Regions from separate parts of the Homo sapiens genome. Here region 1 is linked to region 2. The links come from fine-mapping of genetic effects on gene expression. A gene starts in region 2. The other region holds a variant in brackets. All regions are shown on one strand. Distances are between the middles of the regions.

Evidence for each region.
Region 1: its variant is fine-mapped to the expression of TP53I11 in whole blood (INTERVAL, PIP above 0.99).

What each region holds. Positions count from the first base shown.
Region 1 is chr11:45,091,797-45,103,618 of GRCh38, forward strand. It overlaps a transcript of PRDM11 not described here. Among named protein-coding and RNA genes, the nearest start is that of PRDM11, 49 kb to the right of the region's middle. RefSeq lists enhancers at 9,387-9,927, 9,928-10,466 and a silencer at 11,262-11,556. The variant TC/T (reference allele first, on the strand shown) is at 6,233.
Region 2 is chr11:44,945,791-44,957,612 of GRCh38, forward strand. It overlaps TP53I11 (tumor protein p53 inducible protein 11), which reads right to left and starts at 5,093. Exons shown (of 7, transcript NM_006034.5): 1 at 4,887-5,093. RefSeq lists silencers at 4,863-4,992, 5,023-5,282.

The DNA.
Region 1 (11,822 bases), 150 kb after region 2:
AGGGGGGCCTAGGCAGAAGGAACAGCAGGTGCCAAGGCTCAGAGGCAGGAAAAGACTTAATAGAAATAAAAACAAATAAGCAGGTTGGCATTCCCACGGTTGTCCCTGATTTGCTGTGGGAATGCCCGCCTGCTGCGTGCTTCTCATGTTCCCTGTCTGGGCCTTGTGCCTTCTTCCTGAAGTGGAAGGGGGGTCCCAAGGCTTTTTAGAAGCTGCCTCCTTGCCTAGCTTTCTGGCTCCTCTGTCCCCCGTCCCTGGACTCCTCCCAGCCCCCTCCCGTCTCTTGCCTGCCCTCCTGCATCCGATGCCCTGGCTGTCAGGGAGAGGAAGTTAGCTGCAGGCACATACATTTTTTAAAAACCCAGCCATTTAAGGAAACTATGCCTCTAAACAAACACTCAAAGGCCCCCACCTCTTGTCCCTAAGGGAGGCAGCACCAGGGCCAGGTCAGGAATTCCGGGCATGTGGGGAAGGCCCTGAATGGAGGGGAAGGCAAGTTGCTGGTCAGACCTCCTCCCCTCAGAGGGCCTCGCCCCAGTCCTGAGAACCAGCCCTGACTCCTCCAGGACCCCAGGGCTGCTCTGCTGGTCCCAGGCCAATGGGGCCCAGGAAAAAGGCCAGAGTCATTCCCTGGGCATCTGGCAAGAATATGGCGTCTGTTGTTGTTTTTTTCTTTTTTATTAACTTTTTAATTTTTACTTCTTTTTTTCTTTTTTTAGAGACAGGGTCTCGTTCTGTCATCCAGACTGGAGCATAGCGGTGCAATCATGTCTCACCACAGCCTCCACCTCCCAAGCTCAAGTGATCCTCCCACCTCAGCTTCCTCGGTAGCTGGGACTATAAGCATGTGCCACCATGCCTGCCTAATTTTTTTTTTTTTGGTAGAGATGGAGTCTCGTTATGTTGCCCAGGCTGGTTTTGAATTCCTGGGCTCAAGTGAACATCTCACCTTGGCCTCCCAAAGTGCTGGGATTATAGGCATGAGCCACTGTGCCCAGCCTATTTTTACTTTTTACTGTGAAACATACATATAAAATAATCTATATAACGTACGCACATTTAAAAGACTATGTTAAATCGTAAAATAATAATAAATGAAGGCTTGTATAAGCCCAGACTAAGAAACCCAGCCTAAGAAACCTTCCCAATGCTTTCCAAGCCCACGCTTGCCCTGACCCTGTGGCTGCCCCATATCCCCCTGCCCAGGTTAACCACTGGGTTCCGTGTTGTGCTGTGGAAGCCCATGGCCCAGAGACCCAAGAACATGATTGCAGTAAGAAAATGGGAGGTTTCGTAAGCTTGTCGCTGCAAGGGAGTGCACAGCGCAGGGAAACCTCGGTGGTGTCTCAGGGAAAGGGATCTGGAAAGCCCCTGAGAAGATCTAGGCTTGGCTGGATGATTCCAAGGAAAACCAGGAAAGCAAGTCCAGTTCTGGACTGAGTGCATGGGCACTTAATAATTTTGATCTTGGAGGCAGGAGGGTTAAAACCGCACCGGCGTTGTCTGGTGAGCAAGCCACTGTCACTCAGAAAGGCAGTGGAGAGGAAGGGGTGTTTCACCGGTGCTTACTCACTGGTGGGGTCTCACAGTTAGCCTGGTCTGTGTCTATGAGTGTGGTTTGTGGTTTCTTGGAAACGTTATCTATCTGTGAGCACAATTTGTCATTACTCAGTGTTAATCATTGTGCAGCTTTTCTTTATAGTTTGCATGTATACTATGTATCTTGTAGATTTATGTGTGGCTAAATGATATGCTGTTTGTCATCACCACCACTACCCCACCACTGCCACTACAACAACCCCACCACCTCCATTGCTGCCACCATCACCACGACAGCTACGCCCTCACACCCACAGAAGCGGCGGTGTGGGAGGCCACATGTGCTCTAGCTGTTCCATGTGTGGGGTGTGTATCTGTGTATGCTGGGGTGGCTGTGGGGGGAGAGAGGCTATTTAGAGAGTTTCAGGCTGAGCAGCACTGAGGAACCAAGAAGTTGGCTGCAAAGATCTGGGCCTACTGCAAAGATCATTGAGTACCTCCTGCGGTCCCAGTCTCTCTTTCTCTCCTTACTCCTGGATTTATCTGAAGATGAGGGCTGAGTGACCAAACAAGCATGGGATCAAGGGCCAGAAAGTAGCATCAGGCTCAGAGCTGGAGTCAGGGCTGGCACTGGGAGGCCCCGACAGCAGGAGCCTCTGATCCACCTTGTTCCAGCTGTCTTGAGGACCATCTCTCCCGGCAGCATACCGTGTGGCTTCACACTGCTCTGCCTCTCTGAACCTCGGTTTCTTCATCTATAAAATGGGAATAAGAGTAAGCCACCTCAATGGACTGTGGGAGGCTTAAGTAAATTGAAGTGCCATGCAAGTAGCTAGCATGCAGTTGCAGCTCAATGAATGTGAGTCCCTTGTCCTCCTCTGGGGGTGGGCTGGAATCACAGGGTAGTGGGTGGCAGGTAGCAGGAGGTGAGACGATGGGGTGCCATGACCTCTCCTAACACCTGATGCTGGACAGGAAACAGGAGGCTTCTGGGAAGGGCCCGGGACAGATGCGACCTGCCACCCAGGCTGCCCCTGAATGTCCTCTGCCCAGTGCTGCCCCAGCTGCATGGAGGGACCCCAGAGTGGGGCATGGGCTGGGAGGGGGTGGGGGAGGCTGAGAGAGCAGGAGAAGGAAGTGAGTCATGGTGGGGAAGAGGAGAAAAGGCAGGAAGGAAGAACATGCAGGAAGAAAAGAGGGAGAGAGGGATATGACGGGAGGAAAGAGGAGAGGAGGGGAAAGGAGAAGGAAAGGGAGGGGAGGGGAGGGGAGGGGAGGACTGAAGGGAGGAAGTAGAGGGAGCAGAAAATGGGAGGGAGGAAAGAAGGAAGGAAGGAGGGATGGAAGGATGGAAGGAAGGAAGGAAGGGAGGGAGGGAGGAAAAGACGGAAGGAGGGAGGGAAGGAGGGAAGGAATGAAGAAAGGGAGGGAAGGAATAGAGGGAAGGAAGGGAGGGAGGAGGGAGAGAAGGAAGGGAGGAAGGAGAGAAGGAAGGGAGGAAGGAGGGAAGGAAGGGAGGAAGGAGGGAAGGAAGGGAAGGAAGAGAGGAGGGAAGGAAGGAAGGGAAAGAAGGAAGGGAGGGAAGGAAGGGAGGGAGATGAGGAGACACTGGCAGCTCAGTACCTGGCAGAAGGAGATAAACAGAGTCTGGAGCCACCACTGCCCTTGTCCAGCCACCAGCACAGGCATGGGGGCAGGGAACTGGGCCGGCTGGCCTTGCCAACTGCTTAACAACGCCCTTCCCCAACCTGCCACCACAGTGGGATCCCGCCAACCTGCCACCCTGTCTGCTGGGAACAATAGGGAGCTGTCTGAAGCTGTGTCACTGGCTGCCTCCCCCAAAAGAAGGTGACAGCGATGTCTCCCTGCCATGGGCCTCAAAGCCAGCTGCCAGCCCTTCTAAGCCGTGGGGACAGGAATCTACAGCTGGGCCTCCCTCTGTAACAGCTCCCCCTTGGAACCCCTCCACACCCACCTCCTCCTTTTATTTCCTCCAGCCCTCAGCTCCCTCAGCCTGATCTCCCCAGGCATCCCCTGACATTTGGCCTTGCTCCCCGCTGCTATCTGCTCATCATGTTGGGGACAGGAGATGGGAAAGGGCAGTAGAGACAGTGCTGGGGAGTCAGGACGTGGGGTTTCAGTCTCGCCTTTGTCACTGTGGCACAGATGGCCAGCCGTCTCTCATCATCTATTCTCCCCTCTTCCTGATGAACGCACCCCTAATTTGGTGTCAGGCACATGGCAGCTGAGAGTAGAGGCCACATTTCCCAGACTCCTCTGCAATTACATGTCACTATGTGACAAAGTTCTGACCAATGCAATAGAACTGCAACCCCTGGGACATGTCCTCTTGGGGAAAGGCATTCTCTTTTTAACCCTTCTGCTTTCTGCTCTGGAATGCAGATTATGATGGCCGCAGATACGATGGCTACAGCTGGGGCACCCATTTCGGGTCACAAGGTAGGGTTCAATGTTGAAGATGGCAGAGCCAATTGCATCCCTGATGATCGTGGAGTGCCGGGCCTGCCTGAGATGCTCACCTCTCTTCCTTTACCAGAGAGAGAAAGTAAGTTGTTTAAGCTGCTAATGTGGGGGCTCCTCAAAACGCTTGCACTTGCTACTACCTCTCCCTGGAATACTCTTCCTCCAGATCTTTATTCAGGCCCCTGCTTGTTGTCATCTTCTCATTAAAGCCCGCATTGTCCTTTCTGTCTAACATTACCACCCTCCACTCCTTCTCACTGTCAAGTGGAAAACTCTTTATAGCACACGCTGATAGCTCCATTTTCTTGTTTGTTACGGGCTTCTTTCTCTTTCTGACTTCTGCCAGTAAAATGAAAGCTCCATGAGAGCAGGCACCTGCCATGTTCACTGCCAGATCACTAGGACTCGGAACAGCACCTGGCACATAGTAAATGCTCAATAAATCCTTGGTGAATAAATATAGGTGGAAATGAAAGGACTAGAAGTGAATTGACATTTATTGAGCACCTATTGTGTGCAGGCACCGTGCTGGATGCTTTAGGTAAACCATTTCATTCACACGTCTTAACATTTTTAGGTACAAATTGTTACTCTCATTTTTTCACATCTAGAAACTGAAGTTGTGAGATTATAGGTGACATAATCTCAGATCCCAGAGATCTAAGCAGGAGGGTTGTGGGGGTGCAGGCAGGGTCCTGGGATGTAAGCTCAGGTGCCTTGAATCAAGCCCAATGGGTTTTCATTATTCTGGCCAGGCTCTCCGAAGATAAAAGACATCCTCAGATGTTCCTAAAGCCTCCCATTCAGCTTATTCTCTCACCTGCTTGCTAAGCAACTCTGCACCACCTCCCAAGCAGCCTCTTCACTGGCTTTGATTTTTAGTGTCTTTCTGATTATTTCCTGAGGAGATTGTGCTAGAAGCCTGTGGAATCACAGAGGCACTGGGTAGCGTGAACAGAAATGCCTTTTTCTACTCTGAAATGTGAGGACTGACTCCTTCAGGAGGGAGAAGGGAACGTTGTCATTTCCAAGTACATTCTCTGCCAGGCCTGTTTCAGGAACTCCTGCCTGCTCATCTCACATGATCTTCATGCCAATCCTGGCAGGGAGGCAGCTGCGTGGCCATGCACCAGTCTCCTTGCTCCTCTGAGCCTCCTTTTTCTCATCTGGCAAACGGGGATAATGAGGCTACCAACCTGGAAATGTGGCTGAGAGGTAAATGGGATGAAGATGAGGCCAGGGAATTTGGTTTTAAGGTTCAAATCAAGGATATTTCCTGCAGCTAAATAGAAAGCACCTTTACCTTCATCCTGTATGCAGCCCCCCATACCTCCAACTTCAGCATCCTGGTGACTTAATGCATCAATAGCTCACAAGTTTGAAGATTCCCCTGCTCTCCTGAGTCCTCTCCCTTACTGGCCATGTGACCTTAAACAAGTCCTTCACCTGGCTGAGCCTCAATTTCCTTGTATGTAAACTGAAGGCACTGGACTAGGTTCCCTTCCAGTCTGAAATTCACAGGCTTCTCTATCAAGTAAAGTCTGAGGAATAGTAGCTACCAAACGTGAGCATTTGTTACATGCCGGCAGAATTGCCAGCACATTTACCTACATTGTCTAATTTTGTCCTCACCACAATCCTGTGGGAAAGCTTTCATCCCTCCCATTTAACAGGTGAGGAAATTGAAGCTCAGGGGTGGAACAAATCACTCAAGATCACACAGGGGTAATGGGATTCAAACTCAAGTGTCGCTCAGATGCTCAGACCATTGAACTCTACTGCACACATAGAATCAGAATTTATTTTCACTACCATTTTTTCTGGCCAGGCTTTTCCTGTTTAGCTTGTCCTTGAGGACGGAGCTATTGGGACACATCCAGGGCTTAGGACCACCTGTAGGTGAGACAAGCAGGCTACGGAAAGCATGGAGCCGCCTTGTTGGCAACTGGGGCCACAGGCTGTGTTCCACTCTCTTCAGTCCACATCTCTGGGTGATACACTCATGTTTGGAGGTGCCTGCAGTGGCAGGAGGAAGTGGGGAGTGGGGAATATGACAGTTCTCCAAGGAATTTGGAAGGCAGGGGAAAGAGCTGCACAGGCACCGTCACGTCATTGGCAAAGGTGCCAAAGAAATGTCAGAACAAAATGTGCTGGCTGGGATTGGAGATGAAAAATCCATTCGTGGCTGCCCTGAAGCAAATCCCTTCAC[TC/T]CCCAACTACCATCTCAGAAGGAGGAATTAGTCACGTGACAGAGCTCTTCAGCACCATGGACAGTGCCCTAGCGGCACCTTCAGGGAACCCACCCAGGCCTCAGAGTATCAGGCCCAGTGACTAGCACCACAGCTGATGGAGGGGATGGCCTCGTTCCCCTCATCCCCAGGGACTTATCATCTGGGGCCAGGAAGAAGACTGACATGCAAGGAAAACTCACACAGTGCTGGGTGTTCCTGTGTGCTAAGGAAGGACCCTCTGGCCAATGTTGGCCTTGACATCCATTCCTGCATTTGGCCATCATTGAGCAGGGGATGTGTACCTGACTCTGCACCAGACACCAGGGAAGGAAGAGCACAGATGAATGGAGACTGTGCTTGCTCTTGAAAAGCTTGGACTTAGTCGGGGAGACTGGAAACCAATCATTACGAGATAGAGGTTGGCATGAGATGAGGTCAGTGAGGTTGCTACTAATGCTAGTTCCACTTTACAGGTGGGAAACCAGGCCAGGTGACTTGCCCAGGCTCGCACAGCTATGAGGAGGCAGAGCTGGGATTTGCATCCATGTGGTCAGGTCCCAGGATCCATGATTTTAACCACTACCATGACTATGGGGTGGTGGTGGGGAACAATTCAATTAAGTCTAGAAAGGGGCAATGGAGAATTCCTGGAAGGAGTGACACCTGGGTTGTATTTTCCCAGGTGAGGAAGTTGGGGGAGGTCAGAAAGAATAGCACTGTGAAGCCTGAGAAAGGTAGTGCTCCATAGTGGGTATGGGAAAGGGCCACACAGAGGATGTGGGAACAGGAAGGCGGGCGAAGGTGAGGCTAGAAGACCCCCAAGGGTGGGCTCCTGAGGAGTGTTGTACTAAGCAAGGGAGTTTGAGCTGGATTCTGCAGCTCTAAAGAGTCAATGGAGTGTTTCAAGCAACAAAAGAAGGTAATCAGATTCTGGAAAATGGCTGATAGTGTATTGAAGTGGACTGGAGAGGGATCATTGGCAGGAGGGATGTCTAGCCAGAGGGCTACTGCAGGAAGCCAGCTGAGGGAGGGAGGGAAGGCTAGACTGGGGCAGGGGCAGTGGAGCAGCAGGAATGGCACGCGATGCCTGATGGCCTTGAGATTAAGATCACAGGCTCTGGGCCGGGTGTGGTGGCTCACGCCTGTAATCCTAGCACTTTGGGAGGCTGAGGTGGGCAGATTGCCTGAGCTCAGGAATTCGAGAGCAGCCTGGACAACACAGTGAAACGCTGTCTCTACTAAAGATACAAAAAAATTAGGTGTGGTGATGTGTGCCTGTAGTTCCGGCTACTCCAGAGGCTGAGGCAGGAGAATTGCTTGAACTCGGGAGGCGGAGGTTGCAGTGAGCCAAGATCGTGCCACTGCACTCCAGCCTGGGTAACAGAGTGAGACTCCATCTTAAAAAAAAAAAAAAAAAAAAAAAAATCACAGGCTCTGGCCCCACATCTCCTGGGTCCACAGCCAAGACCAGGAGTGAGGAAGCACCTGCCTTACACTGCCTTTTTTTTTTACTTTTTTTATTTTTAATTTCTGTGGCTACATAGCAGGTGCGTATATGTATGGGGCACATGAGATGTTCTGATACAGGCATGCAATGCGCCATAATCACATCATGGAGAGTGGGGTATCCATCCCCTCAAGCATTTATTCTTTGTGTTATAAACAATCCAATTACAGTGTTTTCATTATTTTAAACTGTACAATTAAGTTATTACTTACTGTAGTCACCCTGTTGTGCTATCAAATAGTAGGTCTTATGCATTCTTTCTAGCTTAGACTGCCAATTCTGAAGCTCATGCACTTTACTTGTGAGCTCTTCAGCCTGTCTCAGGACCCAGTTACTCTTACTTCACCCGCTGTTCTGACAGAGCTGTAGGTCTGACTCTCAAATTCACAGCAGATTAGAAGTAGAAAGTTTTATGGGATGGGAGAAGAATTGAGAGGCAGGTGCAGTGACAGCAGGGAGGGATGCTAGCTAATGTCGGGAAACCAAAGATTTTTTATTTTTTTTAAGCATCATAAAATGGCATCATTTGGCAGATTCTGAATGCATCAACACATCCTACATCAATTACACTATGTAATAAAGTCGGGAACTCTATCACATTTCTAAAAATATTTCCATCCAAGGGCTAAAATGAAATTTGAAAGTTTGAGTAATTAAGAGCAATCCCTCAGCCATACTGATTCGCTAATTGTCCTTAAAATCCGAGTGACTGAGACCTCTTTGTACCTTTCAGAACCTTGTCCTATCCATCAGAGTGATGGGGTGATCCTCACACTCACCCCAGGAGAAAAAAATAGGCAGAGGGGCCACCCCATGTCATAGGTGAAGAAACTCATGCTCAGCCTTTCACAGCCTACACAAATGGCTCTTCATTTTCAGAGTCAAGCTGGGAGCCCAGATGTCCTGATTGGCAGCCCTGAACTCCCAGTCCTTCTGTCTGTCTGCTGCTTCTTTCCTCCCTCCCCTTCTCAAGCCATACCCACCCACTGGTGCTCATCATCATCTGCTGCTGCTGATTGGCTGGTGAGATCACCCTGAGCAGCAGCCCTCTCCTCCATAGGTCCGTGGTATGTTGACATCAGAGAGGTTATTTGCATACCCATCAGCCAGTCAACAGCTTCCCATCCTCAACCGGGCAGTTCCTTTCTTTATGGAACTGAGGCTTCTCACTGGGACTGAGCTCATAAGCCACAACAGAAGCCGCCTTTTATTGAACACTTATTATGGGCCAGGCCTGTGCTATATATTTTGCATATTTTCTCTCATTGGATGTGCACAATAACCAGCTTGAGGTAGGAACTGGGTTAGTCCCACTTCTCAGAGAAGAAACTTACAAAGTTTAAGTATTTGCCCAGGGTCATGCAGACAATAAGTAGCAGAGATGGAATCTGCACCCAGGGATATCTAATCCAAATGCTGTATTCTTAACCAGCTCCAGAGTCTTCCAACAGAGGGACAAGTATTGTGGCTTTGTGTGTGTGTGTTGGAAGTGGGGGGGTGGGGATTAATAGGACTTTAGCCAGGGAAAGCAGCTTCTCCCTTTCCCCACACTTCTTGCACCCTAGTCACCTTACTGGGCTGAGAGGTGTGTCTGTTCCATGAGAGGAGAGAGCTAAGGAGAACTTCCAGTTAGGGAGGGGGTGCTGTCAGGCTGCAGAGCAGAGACTTGCCCAGTCCTCAGACCTGGGAGGTCTCCTTCAAGTGTCAAAAGAAGGTATTTGGCCGGTCATGGGCTCACGCCTGTAATCCCAACACTTTGGGAGGCCGAGGTGGGCAGATCACGAGGTCAGGAGATCGAGACCATCCTGGCCAACATGGTGAAACCCTGTCTCTACTTAAAATACAAAAATTAGCTGGGCATGGTGGTCTGCACCTGTAGTCCCAGCCACTCAGGAGGCTGAGGCAGGATAATTGCTTGAACCCAGGAGGCTGAGGTTGCAGTGAGGTGAGATTGCACTACTGCACTGCAGCCTGGGTGACAGAGCAACACTCTGTCTCAAAAAAAAAAAAAAGAAGAAGAAGAAGAAGAAGAAGAAGAAGAAGGCGTTCAGGGCTCAGAGCTAGAGGCTGAGCAGAGGAAGAAGAAGGCGTTCAGGGCTCAGAGCTGGAGGCTGAGCGGAGGAAGAAGAAGGCGTTCAGGGCTCAGAGCTGGAGGCTGAGCGGAGGAAGAAGAAGGCGTTCAGGGCTCAGAGCTGGAGGCTGAGCGGAGGAAGAAGAAGGCGTTCAGGGCTCAGAGCTGGAGGCTGAGCGGAGGAAGAAGAAGGCGTTCAGGGCTCAGAGCTGGAGGCTGAGCGGAGGAAGAAGAAGGCGTTCAGGGCTCAGAGCTGGAGGCTGAGCGGAGGAAGAAGAAGGCGTTCAGGGCTCAGAGCTGGAGGCTGAGCGGAGGAAGAAGAAGGCGTTCAGGGCTCAGAGCTGGAGGCTGAGCGGAGGAAGAAGAAGGCGTTCAGGGCTCAGAGCTGGAGGCTGAGCGGAGGAAGAAGAAGGCGTTCAGGGCTCAGAGCTGGAGGCTGAGCGGAGGAAGAAGAAGGCGTTCAGGGCTCAGAGCTGGAGGCTGAGCGGAGGAAGAAGAAGGCGTTCAGGGCTCAGAGCTGGAGGCTGAGCGGAGGAAGAAGAAGGCGTTCAGGGCTCAGAGCTGGAGGCTGAGCGGAGGAAGAAGAAGGCGTTCAGGGCTCAGAGCTGGAGGCTGAGCGGAGGAAGAAGAAGGCGTTCAGGGCTCAGAGCTGGAGGCTGAGCAGAGTCACAGGCTCTTTGCCGAAAGCCTGTGTGACCTGGGCCGATGTGTGTTTAATGATCCCCAAAGGCTCTTCCTGTCTTAGTTTCTGGAAAGCTGGCTTTCCCGGGGAGATGCTAGCTGGACACAGATGAGGAAAGACTAAAGTTCAGCCTTGCAGCACTCCCTGGGGCCGGCATGAGGGGAAGCACCCCAGCTGGGGCCCCAACACTGCCCTCTGCAATCCAGCCACTCCCAGGAAGGGAGTAGAAGAGCAATAACGTCTTCTGTGGGAGCCTCCTTCACACCGTGCCACAGCCTCCTTCCCCCATACCACCCCAGTCCATTAGGTCCAGCCCCCCTTGCACCGTGCCACAGCCTCCTTCCCCCCTGCCATCCCAGTCCATTAGGTCCAGATGACCTGTGACACACACCCTGGGCCCCCAGCCCTGTGCTGGCCGCCCTGGTGGATGCTGGAAACGCCAGGCGAGCCTCTGGCCACAGAAGGTGGTGCCTGGCCCATTGCACAGGGGCAGCCAAGGTAATCAGTTCAATGCCAGAGCAGTCAGGGAAGGCTTCCTGGGAATGGCAGCAATTGGGCTGGGCTTGCCAAGCTGATTAGTGTGAACTGGTCGACCGAGGAAGGGAGAGCAGGCCTGATGTACAGAAGAGCAGATGCAGAGAGACAGGCAGGACTGTTTACCCTGGAGGGGGAAGGCCCACTCACTGTGTGGGCAGGAAGCTGACTCAGAGTGTGATGAGAGTAACAGAGAACCCAAGTCTCTCTACTCCCAGCCCAGTGCTCATATAATCGTGAGCCCTAGCCTTGCATTTTCATTCTCTTGTCTGGTCATCACTGGACAGTTGCCTCTGCCATGTCTACTGGACAGGACTCAGGATGGTCACCAGCAGCTTTCCCCTGCATCCCTCCCCAAAGCCCAGAAACCCTGACCACCCCGCCGGGCCTGCCTCCTCCCCGGCCTTGGAGCCCAACCTGGACTCTGCAGTTGGTCCTTTGGCGCCATCTGATGGTAGACATATGAAACTACAGCAAATGGGGGGACTGGTGAAGGAGGAAAAGTTGGAGGAGGAAGAGGAGGAAGATGAGAGGGAGATGAGGAAAGAGGAAGAGGAAATAACTTGTATAGCCTATATGGATCACCATGTGCTTTGGTAGAGACAGAAAAATCTAGGCCCTACCGTTTTGCAGCTTTGTGACTTTGAGCAGTTCACAGTTCCTCCCTGAGCCTCAGTTTCCCCATCTGTAAAACCAGGAAAAATAACCCAAACTTAAGTGTTAACCTTTGGCAGGGTATTGACCAAGAGGGAGCTTGAGGGGGCCTTTGAGGGT
Region 2 (11,822 bases):
GGGAGGCAGGAGAAAGAATCTCTGCTCCCTGGAGGGCGGGACGGAATAGAAGGTCCAGAGCTTGCGTCATCCGCTCCAGCTGCGGTCCCTCCCAGGGCTGCCGTCGGCCCCTTGGGCAGGATGGAGTCTAGAGATCCCCTAGCCCAGAATCTATTGCCTGGGCCATCAGGCAGTGAATCCACTTGTCAATGGCTGTACTGGAGAGGCTTAGGGACTAAGGGACTTGTGTTCAGATCTTGGCTCTGCACTACTAGGCTCGTGCCTTTGGGCAGACAAACTCCTCTTTGAAGGAGCCTCCCTTCCTTCCACCGTAAATGGGGCGGTGGTCCCTGAGTCACAAGGCTGTCCGGGGGCTAGAGAGATAATCTAGAAGTCATGGGACACAAAAGAGGCTTTATGAAAGCGGCTGCACTACTGACATCCTCACAGCGGCCTCTGGGGTGCAGGTTTCATCGGAGGCCCACAGCTAAGGAGGAAGCTGAGGCGAGGCTACCCGGTGGATGGGCCTTGGCTGGCTCCAGCTGGCTTGCTATCAGGCCATCCCTCGAGAGCATCATTATTCCAAAGGCTGGGGCTGCCTTAGTCAGTCTTGTCTCTCAAGCAGATCCTGAGCCAGTGGAGGGCGGAGCTGCAGCATCCGTCTTCCTCATCATCTCAGCATCACCACTGGGCTCAGTGTCCAGGCTGCTGCAAAGAGTGAGGACAGAGCGGAACTGGCCGGGAGAGGCAGGCGCAGGATGCGAGTCCCGTGGCAGTGGCAACCCCCGTCTCCATGACACAGCTCTGCAGTTGAGAAAGGTTCCACGCCCCATTTCCAAGAACCTCCAGGAACATGTGCCCTGAGATCTGGTAGTGGAAGGTTTGTCCTGGAGCTGGAAGGTGGCAGTGTGTCCTGAGTCACTGGGCTCGGAGACAGGACAGCTGAGGTCACAGGCAGATTCTGCCATCACTGGTAAGCCAGGCCCTGTCTTTGGGGCTCAGTTTCTTTGTCTAAGAAAATGAGAATGTGGTCTCTAGGGCCCCTCCCAGCCCTGCCTCACAGCGGCCACACTCCAGGTCCCTGCTGGGCCCCAGCTCAAGCTGCCTCATCCCCAAGACCCGCCACCCCTCAGCCTGGACTGGCACACAGGTCCTATCTTCCTACTCTTTCTTTTTGAAGGGGCCCAATTTCCAGAAAGGCAGAGGAAAGCCCAACCTTTCATCAGAAACATTTCCAAAGCTTTAGGGACAAATATGAACATTCCTTACTGTGCTGAAGAGGGCGAGAGGTCAGGGCAGAGCAGGTGGCAAGAAGGAGGCATTCCTGGGCTCCTCCCCCGGGGGTCTGAAGCTGCTGCTGTGGGCAAGGGGATCAGGCCCTCTGATGGCCTCCATCACCGCTCAGAAGTCACTGGGAGGTTTTTCCTGTCTCGACGGTCATTCACATGGGCAGAACATGAAGAATTCCTGTCCTTTTCGACTCTGAGAATAGGCCAGCCTGCCCCTTGGCCCAGTGACCATGTCAGGGCCCTCAAGGGCAGCTGGTGTCGTCATCAGGACAGCCTGACTTCCAGATCCTATCGGGCTAGGGGTCTGGTGAGAATGCAGCAGGCACCTCCCTCTCCGACCTGCACCCCACTCTCCCCATGCCCCTCCCCCACCCCGTGGCTGTTCAGGAACTTAGAGGGGAGAAGAGGGTGGGAGAGGAAGGGAGAGGAAAGGACAGGAGCTTCCTCGAAGGGATGCTCCACATTTTGAGCCCGTTTCTTCAAAAGCAAGCGGTGATTTGTCTTCTGGGTGAGTTGGGGGAGGCAGGTGGAAGGGTCCCTGCCCTTTTCGCAGGATAAGATGGGCCACAACCATAGTCCAGGACTGAGTGTCTCCCCAATCCTGGGGTGCTGGCTTAGTGGTTAAAGGACTAGCTCATGACTTAAAAGGCTTGTGCTCCATCCTGGCTCTACCACTGATGAGCTGTATGCCTTTGGGCCAGTGACTCTGCCTCCCTGGGCCTCAGTTTCCTCATCTGTTAAATGGGGTGTAATAATGACACCAACCTCTCACCAGTGAGAAGATGCACCAAAAAAATCCAGAACAGCGCCTGTTTTGTAGTTAATGTTCAATAATAATGCTGCTCATTATTTTTAGACTAGAAGACTCTACTTCCTTGCCTCAGTTGCCCCCTTGACCAAATCTGCCTCAGAGCAGGTCCCCTTCTAGGGATCATGTGCCAGGTCAGAGTTGGGTGCTCAGAAGGGACTGGTCATAGGAAGGAAGTGGGATGAGAGAGAGCAAGGGTCACTTTGGGGCAGGAGGACGATGCTGCGCTGGCCCTGGGAGGGGTCCAGCCAGTGTAGCAGGATAAACAGTGAGACACAGGGTGCCGGGGAGGTATCGTGGACCAGGAGTCAGAACATCAGGCACCCCGCCCTGCAGCTGCCTCTCCTGGCCTGTGTGTCCTGGGGTGACTGACATACTGTCTCTGAGCCTCACTTCCCTCACCTGTGAAAGGGGAGGAATTCATCCCTTCTCAGTCACTCACTCTTCCTCAGCCCCTCACTCCCTGCTAGCTGCAGGGTAGGCACATTCCAGCCTCAGGGCCTTTGCATGGGCTGTGCTCTAGCTGTCTACACAGCTCACTCCCTCATCTCCCTCAAGGCTGTAGCTCAAAAGTTACCTCCTCAGGGAGACCTCCCTGACACCCTATTTAAAATGACAACCCGGTCCCTGGCCTCAATACCCCCAACACAACTTTTCCCCTTCACCTCTCAGTACACTATATAATTTGCTTATTGTTTTTATTAGGGAATTGCCTCCCCCTGCCCCCTGCTTTTAAGCATCAGCTCCATGAGGACAAAAATTTTTATTTTGTCCACAGCTGTCTCCCCAGTGCCTGAAACTGTCCCTGGCACTTTGCTCCATAAGCCATTTTTGGTGTAATGCTCACAAACATTTTGTTCAATAAGCAAAAGTAAAGAACAGCCCCAAACTGTGTGACTATGGGGCATTCCTGTTAAATCCAGCCCCCTCCTCCCCCATACCCCAAGAGGGGCAGGCCCTTCTTCCCACAGAGGTGGGGCTATCAAAAGAAATTGGGAGGCTGGGTGTGAGCTGGAGAAGCCACAAGGGGCCTGGAGGCAGAGCTGTGCAGAAAATAGGTCGCAGTCCTAGAACTGGCAGGTCATGACAGCTGGACATGGGTGAAGGGGCTTTCGGCCTTAGCCCTCCACTCCAAATTTGGAAGCACGGAGGAAGTTGACGACATGTGACTGGGAAAGAAGCGGCCATGGCAGGGGCCTCCTGGGATGGTGGGGACAGAGGGGGCCTCAGGAACAAGACGACCCATTTTACAGATGGGACAACAGAAGCCTGGAGAATAGTCTTATTTCCTAACAACCCAACAAGAAAAATCTTTTCTCTCCTTTCTCGAAGTCTGGGGCTGAGGCTAAGGAGCGGACAGTGCCCCCTCCTGGCTCTGCAACAAAACGACCCCCGCGTCCCTGGGATCTGCGGGCCGCAGATCCTGGTCCCCTCTCCACAGGCCGTCAGGGGTGGAGGTCCAAGGGACCACATAGTTGGGGTGGGCAGCCCCGGTGACTTCTCCCCGCAGGCCCGCCCCGTCAAGAAGTTTGTTTGAAAGAAACCAATCAGGAAGTGCAGGGTAGTGGGGCGGTGAGGGGGCCTTGGCCAGCCGCTCTGGGCTTTGGAGGAGCCTGGGGGTTCTTGGCCTCCGCGCTGCTCTTGCCCCAGCCTCCATCTCTCCGGCGGAGAAACCCACTCCCCCCGGGCTCCAGGAAGAGGCGGAAGCCCGAGACTGGGTCAGGGCGAAGGAAGGTAGAGCGAGGGGACCCAAGGCGAGCGCCCCGCCCCGCCCCGCCCAGCGGGGCGCGCCGGGGTGGGCGCGGCGTTCTGGCCCTTCCTCCACACAGCCTCCCCCGGGTAGGTGCGAGTGTTCTGCCCACGGCAGGGGCCCTAACCCACCCAGCGCCCGGCCAGTGGCCCCACACTGTACCCTTCCTGCAGATCGCGCGACTTTGGGGAGAGTGGGGGGCGTCTCCACCTGTGCGTCCCCTACCCACCCCCTAACTGGGCTAAGGCGCGGCCTGGGTTTCTGCCCGCCCCTTTCCAGCCTGGGGACGGGGGACTCTCTCAGCCTCGCCCCTCCCCCTGCAATCTGTCCCTGATGTCCCCGCTCCAGACACTCACCCACTTTCTGAGACCCAGGCCTCAGCGCCGGTGTCCCCCGGCGGTGAGCTCCGAGCCGTTAGGCGGCCCCGGGTTCTCCGGCCCAGGGCCCCTGCCCCCAGGCCCCCACCCCAGAAGGTCGGGCCAGACTTGTGGGCAGCGGGAACTCCGCCACCACCTCCGTCCGCGGCCCTGCGGGGGCAAAGACTGGGGGAACTCGCAAGTTTGCGCCGCGCACTCCTCCTGCCGGGAACAATGGCGGGAGGGGGAGGGGACAGAGAACCGAGCGCGGGGGACCGAGTCAGACCCCGGGGAGACAGAAACTGCTTTCGCTCCGTTTCTCTCCTGCTCTGAAGCAGAAAGCTCGAGCCCGAGAGGCAGTGGCCGAGGACGAAATAAGCAGTCCAGGAGGAGGGCGACCGCGGAGCCGGGGGAGAGGGGAAACCGAGTCAGAGGGAGGGGCGGCGAGGGGAGAGCGCGCAGGGGAGACGGAAGGGGCTGCGGGACGGCGCCTTGGGGAGCTGGGGAGGCGACCCCCTGGGGTCCCAGCGGGCTCAGCGGGTGCCGAGATGTCCCGGGGCGCCCGGTTAGCGCGCGCGGGGTCCCGGCCGCCCCTCTGCGGTCCCGTCGGCCGCAGGAGCCCCGCTGGGTTGCGCTGCGCAGGCGGCGGGCGGCGGGAGGGGAAAGTCCGCGGCTCGGAAGCGGCGGCGGGGAGCAGAACTTACGGGCCTCGCGCGTGCCGGCGCTGGGCTACGTGGAGCTGATGCCAGGCGGAGGCTCCGGGCTCGGACGCCTCACATCGCGCCGCCCGTGCCGGGCCGGGCAGTGCAGGGCAGGGCAGGGCAGGGCAGGGCAGGACAGGGCAGGGCAGGGCAGGGCCGGGCCGGCTGGACTGCGCGCGGCGCCCTGCGCGGCCGGGGCTTACCGAGTCTGGCGGCCCGCGCTGGTCCCTCCTCTCGGTTCCGCGCACAAGCCAATGGCGCGCCGTCCCCTCCCACGCGCCGGGCTGCCTCGCCCCCAGGGTGGCCGCCGGGGCGGGCGGGATGGGGGTTGGCGGGGAAACCAGGCTCCCGGCTCCCCCGCGAGGCTCTCCCGGGGGCCGCCTGCAGGGGGCGCACGCGCGCCCGAGAGAAGGCGCCGGGGGAGGAAGCCGCGCGGGGAGACCCTGGCGTGGCCCGCGCCGCCCAGGATGACTTTCCTGGCAAGTTCTGCAGACGGTGCCCCTTTCTTGGGACGATCAACGTAGATGGGCAAACCACACCATCTTAAATAGCCTTGCGGTGTCTCCCGGGCCCAGGCCGGTGCCTGAAATGGAAGGGACTGCTTTGGCTGGCGGTGATACCCAAGTGTGTAATAACACAGTCACGACAATAGTCACCGTTTGCTGCGCACTCTCTGATGCCAGACACCATATGCTAAAGGAGTTACAAGTATTAACTCATTTGATTTTCACAGCAACCCATAAGGGCGCTGTGCTTAGTCCCATTTTACAGGCCATGGTCGTTAAAGTTTGAGTTCACTCAGCCTTCAGGCTTCCAGCCTAGGCCCACCCTTCTCTCTCCCTGCTTGGTGTGACTTGGCCAAATAACATGACCCCACTGTCACTACGGCCACCTTCTTCATACTCCACCCTAAAATCCAGCCTCAGAGATGCTGCTGTCAGTTGCGCTGTCAGGAGGCTAGGATCTTATCTGGGGCTCTAGGACGCTTGTTGGCGCTACAGTTGTCAAACCTTTTGTCTCTACACATCCTATGGGGGGCTGGGGTGAGGATGAGGGTTGGGGGTCATGGAGGCTCTCTGGTGGCGTGTCAACCTGAGAGAACCAGGCTCCTACAGACAAGGCCCCACCCCCAAATTCTGGGCTCCTTCAACCCCTTATGGTGGGAAAATAATGTGCTCTCTCCCACCCCAACCCCCACCACCCTGTGCTCTCCTTAGAGAAATGCCTGGATCTCTTTCATCTGATCTGATGGTCACAGTGGGCCAGGAACCGGGGTGGGGGGCTGCGGGAAAAGGAAGGCAAGGCTGATGACATGCTCCATTTCACAAGTAAATAAGACAGAAAGAGGTGAGTGGCTGCCTCAGGCATCTAGCTAGGTGGGCATTCTGACTCCAGGTCTCGGTTCTGTCTGCACCAGTTCCTTAACGGTTAATAGAGCAGGCTCTGGAACCAGATCACCTAGGTTCAAATCCTGACTCTGCCTTTTAGTGCCTGTGTGGCCTTGGACAAAGTAAGTCACCTAGAGCAACCAATAGTAAGAACCGGCTATGGTTGCTGTAGAGATTTAGAGTTAATAGGAGCTGCTCATGTTTACTGTGCATGGACTCTGTGCCATGCAGGCTCCCACTGTCCTCACCAGAGCTGGGATTGGGCAGGAGAGTCTGTGCCCTTGGCAAGGAAGTAAACAGAACAGTCCTTGGTTCATAGTAAGTGCTCAGTGAATATAAACTGTCCTGATTACTAAGGTAGATAAACTCTGATGCCCCAGTGCCACTGACACTGCCCCCAGCCAAACACCTAGACAGTGATAGCCAATAATGAATGAATCAATCAATCAATCAAAGTATGTGACTCTAGATGAGGATTATTTTTAAGGTGTGTTGGGTGGAGCCATCTGACTCAAGGCTCTATAGTAATTTCTGCAACAACTCAGTCTCACCTCACTGCCTTTACAGAGCTGGGCCAAGCTGGGTTGATGAATTCATTTGTCACTCCCTCTTCTGCCTTTCTGGCACTCAGGGCTCTGGATTGCTGAAGGGAGGGCCCCCAGCGTCATTCATGTGCAATGTCCTCCCAGACTTGGGGACACCTGCCAGTGCTCTGCTTGGTGTAACCCTAAAGACTAGCAGCAGGGTCTGTGCTTGTAATCCCAGCCAGCCTGATCATACATCAGTGGGAGGCCTTTGTCACAATCACTCCAAGTTTTCCAACATGGAAGAGGCTGCCTTAGTTGTCATGAATGAGTGCCCTGTCACTAGCAGCATGCAAGCAGAATCCAGGGAAGGGTTGATGAGGACAGCAGAGGAAGAATTCCCACCTTAAGTGGTATTTGGAGTGGATAACCTTTGCCCTCTGGGTGTCTGTATTCTCTCAGTCTCCTTATCAACGGGGAAGCTGGGGAGGCTGGGAGCTCAGGCTGGGCCAAGGCTGCCCCACCATCCTTTGTGAACGAGGCCATCCTGACAGTGCCTCACCCTTATGCCAGGCAAGGTGCTATGTGCTGGGGCCCCAGGGGTGAACAGGACAGTGTCCCTGTCCTTGGAGAGTTCACAGCCCCCTTGTAGATGACTGCACAGATAGTCAACAGCAGCAACAGTAACCGCTCAAGATAACAGGCAAAGTGCTTGGAGGGGGACCAGGGGAGAAGCAGCTGGCTCTATCCATAACCCCCTGCATCCGCTCTCCAGAAAGCACCCATTAGAGGCTCTTATTGTCTTCCTCCCTATATACTTTTCATTTATTTATTTACTTATTTATTTATTTTGAGATGGAGTCTCGTTCTGTCGCCCAGGCTGGAGTGCAGTGGCGTGATCTCGGCTCACTGCAAGCTCCGCCTCCTGGGTCCATGCCATTCTCCTGCCTCAGCCTCCCGAGTAGCTGGGACTACAGGCACCCACGACCACACCCGGCTAATTTTTTGTATTTTTAGTAGAGTCGGGGTTTCACCATGTTAGTCAGGATAGTCTCGATCTCCTGACCTCATGATCCGCCCGCCTCGGCCTCCCAAAGTGCGGGGATTACAGGCGTGAGCCACCGCGCCCGGCCCCTATATACTTTTCTAAAGTGATGTGTCCAGTTCAGAAACATCCCTTAGGCAGCCATTCTGCCCTCAACTCTTCTGAGTTACCTGATCTTTACACTGGGCATAAAAAAAAAACTCACCTCACTGGGCTGCTGTGAGGAGTAACATTGACATTCATTAAGTGTGCCCCTAACGACAGGCAAGAATAGATGCTTGGTGCACGGTAACAATGAGGAGTCATCATTATTCTAGGTGAGAGTGAGATAAGTCGGCTAGGACCTTGGCTCTGCTCCTAAGTAGCTATACGACCCTCGCCTGCACGGATATAAAAATATCTGCCTCATAGAACTTGTGAGAGTCAAGTGAGGTGATTCGATGAAAAAGGTTTGCAAACTGGAAATGCTGATTCCTATTATTGACATTATTATTGTGATTCTTACCTTGGTGAAGTGTTCCTCTCAAGGCCCCAGGGGGGTGGGGATGGGAGTGGGGTTGGGGATGGAGCCAGGAAGCAGCCAGCGGCTGTTGCAGGGGTGGGAGGGTCACTCCTCCAGACTCCCACAGGAACCTGGGAGCAGCAGGGGCTCCATCTGCCCTGGTCGCCCTCCACAAGCAGGGGCAGCAACACCTCCTTGGTGGCCAGGTGTGAGTGAGCACTTAAGAGTGCGCCTGTGTGTCTGTGTTTGTGCCCCTGCAGGAAGGTGTGGTGGGCACAGGGATTGCCAGTGTCTGCAGCCAGAAACCACTATGGACGAGGAAGAATGGGGATGTAATTGGATTTCAAAGATGCTTGGAGTGAGACTACTGTTATCACCTGGGACTGCAGGAGAGAGGCCTGCGGAGCGGGGGTTGGGCCTAGTCTTTGGGGTTGGGGCCAGGGGAAAGGTTTCAGCACTGATGGGCACGTGTGGAGGAACATGATGTTGTCAGAGACCTGTTGTGGTTGAGCCCAGGGATTTTGGACCTGACAGATCTGGGTTCAAGTCCTGGTTATGGGACCATGGGCCAGTGATTTCACTTCTCTAGGCCTCAGTTTGCTCATCTGTAAAATGGTGATAATAACAGGGCCTACCTGGTGGGAGTTATTGGAGGTTTAGCAGAGAGGCTGCACGTGAAGCCCTTAACATGGGGCAGGCACATCGACAGTTATCAATCAGTGCCACTGGTGTTATTATGCGGCAGCCTGGGAGGAGCGGAGGGAGAGGGCCTCAGGAGTGCTGGTGCATTCTCAACTGGAACAGGGAGCTCTGGGGTGAGAGTTGTCTAGCCAGGGTTCATTGAAGCTGGCACAAAACCCAGAGAGAAGGAGCCGCCATCCCACAACACAAGGACTGAGGCAGAGAGCTGGGCTTTCACAACTGCTTCTGGTTCCCCTTCCTGGTTTCCTCTCATTTCCTCCAGAGCTTCGTTCTCTGTGAACCTGCCTGGTGAGGAGAACTCTGTTACACATAGCTTTGGGGACTGGAAGGAGCAGCTGGGAGCTCAGGAACTCCCAGGCAGGCCTCCCCAGTGCTTCCTGCCCCCACCCCTCCAGAGTGAGCACTGACCAGCCCTCCTTCCCCGACCCCACACAACTGCCAGCTGCTTCCCTCCAGTGACTCATCCCCACCACCTCTGTTGCTACACCAGGACCAGGAAATGTCAAGCAGTTTCTTATCTGTGGGAGAGAGAACTGATCAGGATGGGGGTGGAAGAAATGAGGCTCAGATCTCCCCAAAGAAAGTGTATGACAGCTAGGGGACCAGAAGACCATGGCCAGCCCTTTCCTGCTTCCTGTGGGGGAGGGCTCAAGGAGGCAGTATGAGAGTGGGATTTAGCCACTAGAACCATCCTGGATTTAGGTTCAAGGTCCTAGTCCTCTTCTAACCGGCTCTGTGGCCTTAGGCAAGTAACTCAGTGTCTCTGAGCCTCAGCGTGTTCATCTGCCAAATGGAAAGAAGAAAATCATGATGATGCATAGGGTACCTGGGGGGTTAAGTGAGATAGTACATGTGAGTCCGGAGCTCACAGTCAGTTCTCAATGAATGTTCATTGACTCAATTAATGAATGGACATGTGGAAATGGCGGTGAGCTGTGTGCATGTGGCCATCTGCAAGAAATCCACCCTCCACCAGCTGGGAGAGTCGGGGAGATGTCTGTGGACCTTGTATCGCAGGCCTGGGACACTGTTGCTCTGTGCTGGTACTGAAGGGACGGCTTCCAAAACTCAGGGCAGATGGAGTATGGAGTACCCCTTGTCAGCATAGCTGACTTAAGAACCTCAGGCTGGGTCCAGATTTTCAGAGTGCTGAGCCCTGGCCAAGAAAAGAATTGCTATGCAGGGAAGTGAGTAGCAGATTTTGGACCCTCATCTTGGGCGACCCCCAGGACCTCTTCACAGTGAGTGCCCAGAGCAGCCACTCTGGGCTGTGGGATCATAGTCTTGGACCCTGGGCAGCCGGCTAGGCCAATGGCCACCGCTTCACTTGCCTCCTGTCCAATGATAAAACCCCAGGGGCTTTATCATTATTTCAAAAAATAGCATTCTGAGCCCGTACTATGTACCAGACGCTGGTCTAGAATCTTACATGTCATTAATCCTAACAAATCTCACGAAGTTGGTACCATTACTAGTCCCATTTTATAGATGGCAAAACGGAGGCCCACTGAGTTACATAACTTACCCAAGATCACACCCTAGAAAGCAGGGAGGTGGGACTGGAACCCTGGCAGTCTGGCCCAGAGCTCAGGTGGTTCTGGTGCTGCCGCTGGCCAGGGCAGGCATTGCTGATCCCTTGTAAGGCCTGCCACTCCTGGACCACCCCCACCCCAGTGAAGCCATACAGTTTGGGGACAGTAAGTCACCTGCGGACCGACAGGAACATCTGACAAATAGATTCTAGTTTATAAATCTCTTTAGAGTGTATGAGTCTCAAAGCCTACTTGGGGGCAGGAAAATGTTAGAAACACAAATTCTCATTTCCACCTCAGACAACTGAAACTCTGGGAAAGGAAGTCACAGGGGCAACAATCTGTCGTCCAACAGCCCCCCACGTGATTCTGATACAAGCCAAAGATTGAGAACCATTGCTTTAGAATTTGCAAAGCAGATTCCTAGATTATCTAATTTAAATGGGCACTTTGCTATTATTCGGCTCATTTTACAGGTAAGGCTAATGAGTTTCCATTTGCCAGCTATCACCCATCAGGGAAGTGAAGATGGGCCTGGAACCCACACTTTTTGATTCTGGAATATTCTTGTTTGCCCTCCTGGGACCGGGCTGCTGAGCAAGGTGGGTGGGCGAGGGACTCTGAGCTGAAGGGCAGGGTGAAAGACCAGAGGGGAGGGGAGGGAAGGGATTCCACCTCCTTCCCTCCTGGGTGAGGAGCGGGCAGCGTGGATAATTCCCTCGGAGGCGCCCCAACCCAAATCTACATACATAAAGCCCAGGCTGGCGTTTTGAGTGATCGGTTTATTAATACAGCGGGGCCGCTGCCGAGGCGGATCGCAATAACAAAGAAGGCCTCTCCGCCACCCACCAGAGGCGTCGTTATGTAATTGCTCCGAGGAGGAGCAGAGGGCTGGGGCGCGCCGCGGGTGCTGGGGGCTCGGCCAGCAGGGAAGCTGCGATCCGGGTCTCTGGGGATCCGAGCCGGCGGCGGATGGAGGGAACACTTGCTGGAGAGTCATCAGCCCTTCACCTGGTGCTCTCCTCCTCCCACGCACCGGTCAGCGGTCAAGGGGCGGGTTAACACCGGTTTGGCAGGGCGCAGACCTCCGCCCACCCGGGAGAATTGACCCCGGAGGCAGATCTGCAGACCCAGAGGACCCCAGGGCTGACCCAGGGCCTCCCCTCCGCCACTCACCACCGCCCATCCTTGCCCCACTCTCACCCTGGGATGGGGGAGAGAGAGAAATGACCAACTTTTTGCGCGA